Regions from separate parts of the Homo sapiens genome. Here region 2 is linked to region 1. Evidence: fine-mapped expression QTL. Tissue or cell type: nucleus accumbens. Region 1 holds a variant in brackets; the other region holds the start of a gene. All regions are shown on one strand. Distances are between the middles of the regions.

Region 1 (5,786 bases):
ACAGGGTTGCTCTAGCTTTGCTCCCTGGGAAGCAGGCTCTGAGATGAAGATCAGCATGCAGGACTTTTGGGAGGGAGTGCTCTTGGAATCAACTCCTATAGGAGAGGAAAGAAAGAAAGGATGCAGAATTGGGAGGAGAAAAGTGGAGCTGTGATTCATTCCCAACAGAAGCCTCAGCCAATCCCGCAGGAAGTTCTGAAGATGGGATGGTCCTTCACCTGATCTGGTGCTGGGTAAGCTGCCCAAAATCCGTTCTAGGGATTCAGGGCTGTGACATTGTGAAATATATATTTGGTCCTTGTCCCCACCCCCACCCCCATTTCCTGGAATCTCCAAGGTGCTGTCTTTTTATATGCTAATGTTGAATGATAGCTTCAGGGTGGGGCTGGTCACTGGAAAGACCAAGGCAGGATTAGAGGGTTGGGATTTTCAGCTCTGCCCCCAGTCTCTGGGGAGCGGGGAGGAGGATGAAGGTCAAGTTGATCGCCAATAGCTAATTGTTTCATCAATCATGCTTATGTAATAAATCCTCCATAAAAACCTTAGAGGACAGGGTCCAGAGAGCCTCCAGATAGCTGAACACATGGAGATTCCCAGAGGATGGGACATCCAGGAAGGGCATGGGAGCTCTGCAACGCTTCTCTCATACCCAGCCCTATGCATCTCTTCATCTGTATCCTTTGCAAAACCTCTATAATACACTGGTAAACATAAGTGTTTCCCTGAGTTTTGTGAACCACTCTAGCAAATTAATCAAACCCAAAGAGGGCGTTGTGGAAACCCCAACTTAAAGCCAGTCTGTCAAGTTTTGGAGGCCTGGACTTAGTACTGCTGTCTGAAGGAGGGAGGGGCAGTTTTGGGGACTGACCCCTCAATCTGTGGGATCTGACACTATCTCCAGGTAGATAGTGTTGAATTTGAATTGGAGGACATCCAGCTGGTGTGCACTGCCGAATTGATTGCTTACCTGGTGGTAAGGAGAACCCCCTTCTCCCCACATTTGGTCACAGAAATCTTCTGTGTTGATTGTTAAGTAAGAAAATAGAAAAAAATAATTTGAGTTTCCAAACAAGGGGTGAGGAGGAACTCTGGACAGGCCACAGGCTCAGGTGTCATTCCAACCCTGTAGCCTCTTTTTGGTTCTGAATCGCGTCATCACAAAGTTCAGACCATGGGTCTAGATTTCCAAGATCCACATGCCTTGGGTCTTGAGAAGGTCCTGATCTTCATGAGGTCTACAAGGGCAAAAGTTCCAGAAGTAGCAACCACAGATTCAGCTCATAAGCTGTTGAGAGCAACTCTCCAGTTGCAACAAACATGAAAATGAAAGGGACATCTTCCTTCAGAGGTAGCCTTCTTAAGCCTCTGCAATTCCACAGCAAGACGTATGACCACAGCCAGTGTGACACATAATTGAAAATGCCTTCTCATAAGAGAGAGTAGGAGACTTGTCAGCAGAGAGATACCATCTATATACAGCACAGAGTCCTAGACACACAGGGCCATGGGGAAATAGAAATTAAGAGATTCCAAGTGTATTGTTTAGGGGAGAAAAGAGCAATTCAAATAATATCTGGAGTCTGTGACTGGCATCATTACAAACACTTAGACTTTGCAAGAAGGCATCAATGTCCAGAATGACAATTTCAGAGTATGACCAAGGAATTTCCCAAGAAAGTTATGGCAAATACCCAGTGTCAACATTCACCTCTTGGTAGGGGATTTCCCCAGAGTTTAGTTTCACAGGTCACAGGCACTAGACAACTCCTATAGTTAGTCTAGTGTTTTGGAGAAGCTGAAACCCAGAAGAATGTTTTTGCCTCATTTTTCCTTCAGATACCACTGAGTCTCCATTATGTCTTTGGCAGTAGTAACCCAGGATTAGATAGGTTCTGAGATTTCATTTGGTTTGAGAAAACTGCTCTAGTGCTATAAATTGCTGGAAGTAATTAATTTTAGCCAGTGTTGTGATAATTTGTATTTCCTATTGACAATCTGAAGTCTTTAAAAGAGAGACAGAAGAATGGCTAATATAACTTCTAGGACCCAAGAAGATGACACCTATTCTTACAAAAGGCATTTTGGGCCATGTTGCTGGAGGTATTGATAACTCTGCCCAGACACTGAGAACCTTTCTAGCTGACAATGAGCAGAATAAGAAATGGACCGAAACCCATAATCTCTGGATTTTAATGTGAAGTTTTAATTTTTAGATTCTTTAAAAGTTGGACACATTAATTCTCCCTGGGTAATTAATAGTAGGAGGAAATGTATATTTGAATATGGGCTGTCCCTATATATTTCGGTGGAATATTTTTATGATATCATTTAACCTCACTGAAGACATTCTACTAGGCTGAGTAGGACAATGTGGTTGGACCTAATTTGCGAGACGAAGTAAAACAGAAGGTGGATTTTCAGCCATGAAACAACCTTAAAGTAAATCTAATTGATTTATCATTCTCAACCATTTTGGAACCTTCTATTGGCAAAATCTGTCCTGCCTATCAGTGGTCAAAGGACATCTCCACCAAAGCAGAAGTTGGTAACATGGAGGTGGTTTGACAAAAATAGGAGTAGGACAACTGACCTCTTCCAGTAGAGAGCTGGCCACACTACCGGTTGACCATGGGCTTGCCAGTTCATC[CA/C]ATGGCATACAAGAAGAAAATGTGGGTACAGTTATCATTATTGGAAAATTCATTGTTGTTACACATTTATGCCATGTGTTCCAATGTCAGTACAGCTAACATTTGAATCTTCCTCAGCCTACTCTTCTGTCTATATTCATTGGTACAGAGCTTAGGCATGGGTAAGAAGGGTGTTGTTTATTAACCCCTTCAATCCCAGCAGCTCTGATTATGTTATGTTGTTATGTTATTTGATATTACATATAGGAGGGAGAGAGAGAATGTTTCTGTGGTTCACAATTTTAGGCAAAGTCAGTGGTAGAAAATTCTCATATTCTCATCCTTGGAAAGTTTTGATTTAGGAAACAAAGTTAATCAAACCCAAGTCCAATGGACATGGTGAATGACTCTGGTGTGGGGAACAGGATTGCTTCTTCTTAAAATGGTTTTTAGAAAATGGTGTGAGAGGATGAGAGGAAAATGAAGAATGAGATGGGATTGAAAGGAAGTGGATGACTCTTATGACTATTTCATATAGTAACCCCACCACTGTTTCCAACAGCATAGTTTTAAACATATTTGGGTCAATGAAAGCATCTTCAGAATTAGTGTTTATTTGGTCTTTCAATGTGACTATTCTGAAACATAACACTCATTTGGACATTGAAATTCTATCTGGGATTCGTAAGGTCACCATATAATCTATCACCCCCAAAAGGGGTACTTTTGAGTGTGAAAAGTGTGCTAATAATAATTATGCTGGAACAAAGGCATAAATCAGGTATTTCCCAGGCAAACTAGAATATATGGCACCCTAGATATGTGTAAAAACACCATTGTCATTCCTTGTAGTCATCCTTTTAAATACCATCAAAAATCTCTTCTCAAAGAATCTCCATTGTGAAGTCCTATAAAAGAAGAAACATTGAAATCTCTTACTAATGTGGTATCATATTTAGATAGTGGGGAAGGACTTCATTCCTTTTATATCAGCTGTGTAGTGAACAAAAAAACAAGTATAGAAAAATTTACTCAATTGACTGAAATTTACTTGTTAGATATTTTAACTGTACCATTCCAAATGGCTAGTGGGGAATGATACGTCCTTCCTAGGTAGCCTGAACCCCTTGGCTTTGTTGGATCTAGGTAAATTGTCATAGTGTCCTCTAGCACTGATTGGGTGTGGTTGTGGTGAATGAACCCTGTAATGTGCTGCCCAGATCCTCCTTCAGAAATGAAGAACTTATTCTCCCAGCTGCTAGTACTGCCCGTTGATCACTCTCTGCTCTCAGCCACTTTCAGGGCTTGCCTTGGCTAAAAAAATACCCAAGGTCCAACAGGGGCAACACACATCCAATGTCTAAACAATGCAGCTGGTATAAAGGCCTAGCTCCCTTGCCTCAATTTGGGACGGCTCTAAAGAGCCATCCTAATACCAGAGCTTCCCAGAAGATCAGCCAAGGCCTTCATTGGGACCAGCAGTTTAACCTCTCCCTCTAACCAGTCATGTTTCCATCCCCTTCTTTCTACAGGTATTGGCTCCAAGAGCACTTCCTAATAAACACCCTATATGCTGATCTCCATCTCAGAGTCTCATCCCTGGTGGCCTCACACTGTGACAGTCATCTTTAGTTCTGATGTTAGTCTAACATTTGATCTGTTCTGATCTCAAGTCCTCAATAAAAAATTCAGATTTATTCTTGGCTCACAGACTTACTTTTTATGAATGTCCTAGATGGAGACACTAAAGGTCTCTGCTCTGAAAGCTGTCACTCTCCTTTGAGGATATAAGTTTAAGAAGGAATAACAGATATATCTGCACACCTTTAGCAATCAAACCAAACCCAGTATGCATCAAACCAAACTACAGCAAGCAGTTCTTTGAAGGTTGGAAGCCATTTACTTCATCCGAATTGTGGGGTCCTACTTCTAGTCTCTCCATAAGGCAGAAACTGTCCTACTCAGGGTGGATCCCTAGTGCCTTGCACAGAGCCACAAACAGAAGAGGCGCTTGGTATGCGTTTAGTGAATGAATGAATGTATGCCTGGGTAGAAAGATGAACCAACCAATGCAGTCCCCCATGGCAGTGCTTGAGAGCCCCTAGAACTGAAAATGACCAACTCAAGGTAAGGAGATGGGAGGGACAAGAAGGATCAAGGGAATGAGGGGCAAATAGGAAAGTCCATAAGGAGGAAACAGAAGATTGAATCAAATCAAGCCAGTCTTCTACTAAAGGAGAGTTCTGCAACCTCAACCACTCTTTAACTTTCTCTCACCTTAGTCACTTGTCACCACTTCCTCACCTCCATTCAACCTACTAAACTATAGCAGCATATTATAGTCCCTGCTTTATTGCTACATTATTTGTGGCATTGTGAGAATTTGTCTGTGGCACCAGAATAGTCCTGGCTAACTCTAAATTCTTTTTATAGTAAGCCTCTTCTGCAGCAGTTGAAATTGAAATTAGAAACATGCGGGCCTTGAGCACTAAGCTGGGGCTGATGAGCAGGAAGTGGTAAATGAATAACTACCTTATTAGATCATATTTTCATTGTACAATTCCTTAGAACAAAGACACTTGCAGCCACAAGACTTGCTACCTAGTGATATAGTTGCGCTGAAGCCAGTAATAATTGTACCATGCTAAAAGCCTATTCAAATCCATCATTGGGAAATATAAGGAAACTTCAGACACTTCAGGATTTACTATATTTTTTCTGGATAAACTATGACTTAATAAGGGAAGTTTTAAAAGTGATTCAGGGCATCAACTAACATGACAGAAAATATTTTAAACAATGGCATAAATGGATCAGTGTTCTCTTGTTTAAAACTAAAATCTATTCTTTTTCTTTTTTTCTTTTTTAAGCGAAAAGACATTTAAGACAAAAGCCTTTAGGGGTCCTTTCAAATTCTCAAATGTCTGACTAGGGTTTCAAATAACAATGGATTAGAGAAGAAACCTCCCCCAACTATACCATACTTAAACACATTAATTATTACACTAGGCTGAACAAACTAATCCTGAATGCTCAACAATGTTATTAGTACTAGAGGCAGCACTATTTGAAAGCTTTCACTTTTCCCCTAGTACTTATGCCTGATTACAGGTGTAAGAAAGTTTCCTATAGTATGTGTCTCACAAAATCCACTGTGAA
Region 2 (5,786 bases), 370 kb after region 1:
GTTTTTGGTAGAGACGGGGTTTCACCATGTTGCCCAGGCTGGTCTTGAACTCCTAGGCTCAGGATACCCACCCGCGTCGGCCTCCCAAAGCGTTGGGATTACAGGTGTGAGCCACTGGGCCAGGCCCACTTTCTGCATTTTGACAGGAGCCTTCAAGCATTAAAGTTTGAGAAGCACTGGTCGAGGATCTATCTCCTTTCTCACCTGTCTGGCGGTCAGCAGGCTTGTTTGTCTGGGGGGTGGGGGGCCTCAGCTGGGAGGGCTTATTTTCTGAGCCATGTTGCTAACCCAGGCTTCTTCACGAGCCGATCTCAGGGTTCCAAAGAGCAGGATGAGGGCAATTCCCACAGCAGGAGTATTTTTCAAACCTTTGCTGTGTCATGTTTGCTACTGTCCCACAGGCCAATGCAAGCCACATGGTCATCCCAGAGTCAGTATGGGAAGGCATTGCCCAAAGGCAAAACAGAGGAGGGGAATACTTTGTGGTTATTTAAAAAACCTATCACACTTTCCACTATCAGAGTTGAGGCTTTTGGAGCGGAGGGCGGGGGGTGGGGGGAAGCGGGAAACACCAGCAACTATTTGCATTCTGCCCAGCCACACCTCTCCCCTCACACCAGCACAGAGCCACCTACTTGCTTAAAAGATGAGAGGAGGCCAGGCACAGTAGCTCAGGCCTGTAATCCCAGCACAAGGCCGAAGTGGGAGGATCACTTGAGCCCACGAGTTCAAGACCAGCCTGGGCAACATACAGACCCCGGTCTCTACAAAAAACAAACAAACAAACAAAATTAGCTGGGTGTGGTCCACATGCCTGTGGTCTCAGCTGCTTGGGAGGCTGAGGTAGGAAGATCGCTTGGGCTTGAGAGGTTGAGGCTGCAGTGAGTGGTGATAGTGCCACCGCACTCCAGCCTGGGTGACAGAGCCAGACCCTGTCTCAAAGCTTTTTAAAAAAGCCAGAGAGGAGGGAAAAGTGAAAACAGAAGGGAAAGTTGTAGATTAATATTGCAAAATCATATCCTTGCTATAAACGAGATGTGTACAGAGGTCAATGCATATATGAGTTTGGTAGTGGAAAAGTGAGAGATCGTCTAACATGGTTTCTTTATGAAGTAGGCAGTAAGGTCATGTGCTGAGAAGAGGTGGGTGGGGGAAGAGGGGTATCAGAAGTCTGAGGAGACTAGAGAAGGTTTGAAATCATCATAATGGAACTGGAGACTGGGAAGTGACATGAAGAACCTAAGATTTCAGCAACCATTTCAGGTTGATGATTATGAGGTTATCTTGATGCTGATCTGTTCTGTGGGCTCCCAAAGTGCTGAGATTACAGGCGTGAGCCACTGTGCCTGGCTCACACCTGTGGAGAAATGTTTCGCAGTGGTGTTTGCAGGCACAGAGAAAGCCAAAAGCAGGGTTTGGGGGATTTTGCTAGATGAGTAATGAAAAGGCAGAGGGCACGTGAGTTTAGCTTATTGGAGGGAGTGTTATTAAAATAATGGTATGGCATCTTTCAGCTGAATATGAAAAATTGAGAAGAAAGTGGGGGTGGTGGTCAAAAAGTGGAGGTTGGAGAATAGGGAAGATTTGAACAACTGGCTGGAAGAAGAGGGGAATTGTGGAAAGAAAACGAAATGCTTGAGTCAGTGGTTTCACAGGTGGAGTAGCTTCCGTGATGAAAAAGACCAGTGGAGAGCATTGCATATGTTCTCACTCTTCCAATTTGAACACCTTCCCCTGGTGGAGATAAGTAGATATGCTTTCTATGTTTTATTAACTTTACAACACCTTCCCCAAGCTGGTGAAAGGAAGCTCTCACTTCCTTATTCATTAGCCTGATGAAACAGAGCAAAATGTATCTTTTTTGGTTCTGTTTTGAATTTTAGTAACTCTAGTCTTCATCTGCCTGTTGGACTTCCTGTCTCTTTTTCATCTATCTTTGGGTACACATTTCTTCTTACGGGTCCTTTTAAACACCGAGCTCCTGAGAAAGGTCACCATTCTACCACTTTGATTCTGTAAATGTCTTTTGCTCATAGGTGTCAGAATAGGCTGGGTTATACTGTGGTAACAACCCCCAAATCTCGCAATCCCAGGAGGTACATGGGTACTAAGAATTATTCACATTTTACAAATGACCAAACTGGGCCCCAGAGTATTGGTAAAATGTGCAGAGCCCATCAGCTGGTGAAACCCTAAGGAACACAACACTTAGAATTTCACAAAGGCTAGACTTTATGAAATGTGCTGCGTGGATGCAGTAGTATCTCCAACCCCCCTGGACCGCTCTGCCACGTACAATCTTCTATCTTTCAGTCCGGAACTCAGTAACACCCACTCCAGGGCTGATGGGGGCGCTGGATGTATAGTGGCGAGTGTTTATCTGCCTAGGATAGCGATGGCTAGGCAGGGGACATAAAACAGAAGAGGCAGTGACCTTCTCCGGGTGGGGTCTATGGCCCTTTACTGGGTACATTCTGTACACACAGGCCCCTCCTTTGCCTGAAGTCATTGATGAAGACTTCATTACGGAGGGTTTGGGGAAAGGTGGGGGTCTGGCTGGGTAAGCCGGCGTCCCAGCCCCGCTACAGCCCCGCCCAGATCTGGCAGAGCCGTGGGCGAACCCAGGCGGGCAGAAAGGCGGGGCGGGCGGCTGCCAAGCCGGCCAATAGGCGGCTCTCCGGCTGCTAAGCCGAGAGGGCAGGGGCGCCGTCAGTAGCACCACCGCCTTCCAAGTTTCCCCTTGTGGATGCGCGGCCCCGCGGCTCTGCTCCTCCCGGCGCAGAGGGGCCGGGAGAGGCCACAGGAGCGGACCTGGCACGGGATTTCTGAGGAACGGGAGAAGACTGGCGCCCGACCCGCTCTGGAGGGTCGGTGAACGATGAAGGGCCGGCGGCGGCGACGCCGAGAGTACTGCAAGTTCGCGCTGCTGTTGGTGCTGTACACGCTGGTGCTGTTGCTCGTCCCCTCCGTATTGGACGGCGGCCGCGACGGGGACAAGGGCGCCGAGCACTGCCCCGGCCTGCAGCGCAGCCTGGGAGTGTGGAGCCTGGAGGCGGCGGCGGCCGGCGAACGCGAGCAGGGAGCGGAGGCGCGGGCCGCCGAGGAAGGGGGCGCGAACCAGTCTCCTCGGTTCCCAAGCAACCTCAGCGGCGCTGTCGGGGAGGCAGTGTCTCGCGAGAAGCAGCACATCTACGTGCATGCCACCTGGCGCACCGGCTCGTCCTTCCTGGGCGAACTCTTTAACCAGCACCCGGACGTTTTCTACTTGTATGAGCCCATGTGGCATCTATGGCAGGCGCTGTATCCGGGCGACGCCGAGAGCTTGCAGGGCGCGCTGCGCGACATGCTGCGTTCGCTCTTCCGCTGCGACTTCTCCGTGCTGCGGCTGTACGCGCCGCCGGGGGACCCCGCTGCGCGCGCCCCGGACACGGCCAATCTTACCACGGCCGCCCTCTTCCGCTGGCGGACTAACAAGGTCATCTGCTCGCCGCCACTGTGTCCTGGCGCACCCCGTGCCCGGGCCGAGGTGGGCCTCGTCGAGGACACCGCCTGCGAGCGCAGCTGCCCACCCGTGGCGATACGCGCCCTGGAGGCCGAGTGCCGAAAGTACCCGGTGGTGGTCATCAAGGACGTGCGCCTGCTCGATCTGGGCGTGCTGGTGCCCCTGTTGCGTGATCCAGGCCTCAACCTGAAGGTGGTGCAGCTTTTCCGCGACCCGAGGGCGGTGCACAACTCGCGCCTCAAGTCTAGGCAGGGACTGCTGCGCGAGAGCATCCAGGTGCTGCGCACCCGCCAGAGGGGCGACCGCTTCCACCGTGTGCTGCTGGCGCACGGCGTGGGTGCTCGCCCCGGGGGCCAGTCTCGCGCGCTGCCCGCCGCGCCGCGCGCCGATTTCTTCCTGACCGGTGCGCTCGAGGTGATCTGCGAAGCCTGGCTGCGCGATCTGCTTTTCGCGCGCGGCGCGCCCGCCTGGCTGCGGCGCCGCTACCTGAGGCTGCGCTATGAGGACCTGGTGCGGCAGCCACGCGCCCAGCTGCGCCGCCTGCTGCGCTTCTCCGGGCTACGCGCGCTCGCAGCGCTCGATGCCTTCGCGCTCAACATGACTCGCGGCGCGGCCTACGGCGCCGACCGGCCCTTCCACCTGTCAGCGCGCGACGCCCGGGAGGCGGTGCACGCCTGGCGCGAGCGCCTGAGCCGAGAGCAGGTGCGCCAGGTGGAGGCCGCCTGCGCTCCAGCCATGCGTCTGCTCGCCTACCCTCGCAGCGGAGAGGAGGGCGACGCGGAGCAGCCCAGGGAAGGGGAGACGCCGCTGGAGATGGATGCCGACGGCGCCACGTAGCCTCCCATCCCTGTCCCCGGCACGGATCCGGGTAAGGTGGCCCGGGGCAAGGCAGGGACCGGGACTGGTCTTCCGGGAGCCTGGAATGGCCTGGGGAGGGGGAAGTGTAGGGGGGAGGGTACCATGCTGGATCCCATTCTATCAGATCAGGTCCAAGAGGATGGGAAAGTCCTGCTCGTAGAATTTGGTAGATTCATCGGAATCTCCAGCTTAGCCTCGCGCCTCCTTAGAGGGAGATCCTGAGATGAGAGAGGATATTTAGGCGTGACTGAGGTGGAAGCCAGGTCTCTGCATTCCCATTCCCCTGTATGAAGTAGGAGGTTTCAGAGGGCTGAGGAGAGTAGAGAAGGTTTGAAACAGTCATAATGAGCCGTGAGACTGGGAATTGACATGTGGAGTATAGGATTTCGGAAACCATTTGAGGTTGATGATTATGGAGTTATCTTGATGCCAGTTTGTCCTGTGAGGAGACTTTGCAATGGTGTTTACAGGCACAGAGAAAGCCAAAAGCAGAGAGTTTGGTGGAAAGGCATTGATTCTAACCCTACCTATCCCTAATCTTTCTGTTTCATGTTTCTTCTCTGTCTGTTTTATGCGCAGGCTCCAGGGCTTTTCTCCTGAATTTCCAAACATGCAGGCACAGTCCAGCGGCTCTTGCAACACTTCTTGCACATTGTGTGTCTCAGGCGCTTGTGTAGTGAATAGACTTGCTTTCCCCTGGCTCATGTGCGCCTCTCTGTCTCCCCTCCCCCTCCTTCCCTCTCTCATTTCCCCTCTCCCTCTCTTCCTCTTCCTCCCCCTTCCCCTCCTCCTCTCCCTTCCCCCTTCTCCCTGTAGCTGGCGTTTGCAGGATATTTGACCATATCCCATTCACATCAGGTCACAAAAGCTGCCTGGTCAGCTTCCTCTAGTGTCGACAAGACCTCAGGGTTGGGTGTCCCCCACTCCACCCCATCCGTTTGACAGATGGAGCCTTCAATTGGCAGTAGCAGTTTGTGACTGCAGGAGGAGCTTTGTGAAAAGACACTGCCCCCTCTTTTTTGTTTTTCCATTTTTGTTTTTTGTTTTTTTCTGTATATCTGAAGATGCTAAAGTGGGGCTTAAACAGTCTCAAAATGTGTTCTGTGTGGGTCAGTGTATGGCCTGAGGGAAGGGTTTGTTCTGCACAGTGCTGACCATAGGAGTCTACTTAGTGACATGGGAGTGTGTTTCCCCAAACTTTATGTGAGTTGGAAGGGTGCCGCCTTCTGCACTGTGCAGTCAGTCCAGAGGAGGAGGAAAAGTAGTGCTGGGTGGGCGGAAGTGAGTTAAGTTTCCATTCATTATTTTATAGTGTAATTCAGCATTCCCCTGAGATGAAGCTCTGAGGACAAACGTTGAAGATATTAATGAAGAGGGATTTTGTTGTTGTTACAGAACCAGGGTTTCAGAGTGATTTCAGAAGCTG

Evidence for each region. PIP is the estimated chance that this variant, and not a neighbour inherited with it, causes the effect.
Region 2: CHST7 starts here. The variant in region 1 is fine-mapped to the expression of CHST7 in nucleus accumbens (GTEx, PIP above 0.99).

Annotation. Positions count from the first base shown.
Region 1 is chrX:46,203,517-46,209,302 of GRCh38, forward strand. No RefSeq gene overlaps it. Among named protein-coding and RNA genes, the nearest start is that of LINC01186, 120 kb to the right of the region's middle. The variant CA/C (reference allele first, on the strand shown) is at 2,648.
Region 2 is chrX:46,571,054-46,576,839 of GRCh38, forward strand. It overlaps CHST7 (carbohydrate sulfotransferase 7), which reads left to right and starts at 2,712. Exons shown (of 2, transcript NM_019886.4): 1 at 2,712-4,370. The coding sequence starts at 2,879. The coding sequence ends at 4,339. RefSeq lists silencers at 3,730-3,779, 3,900-3,959.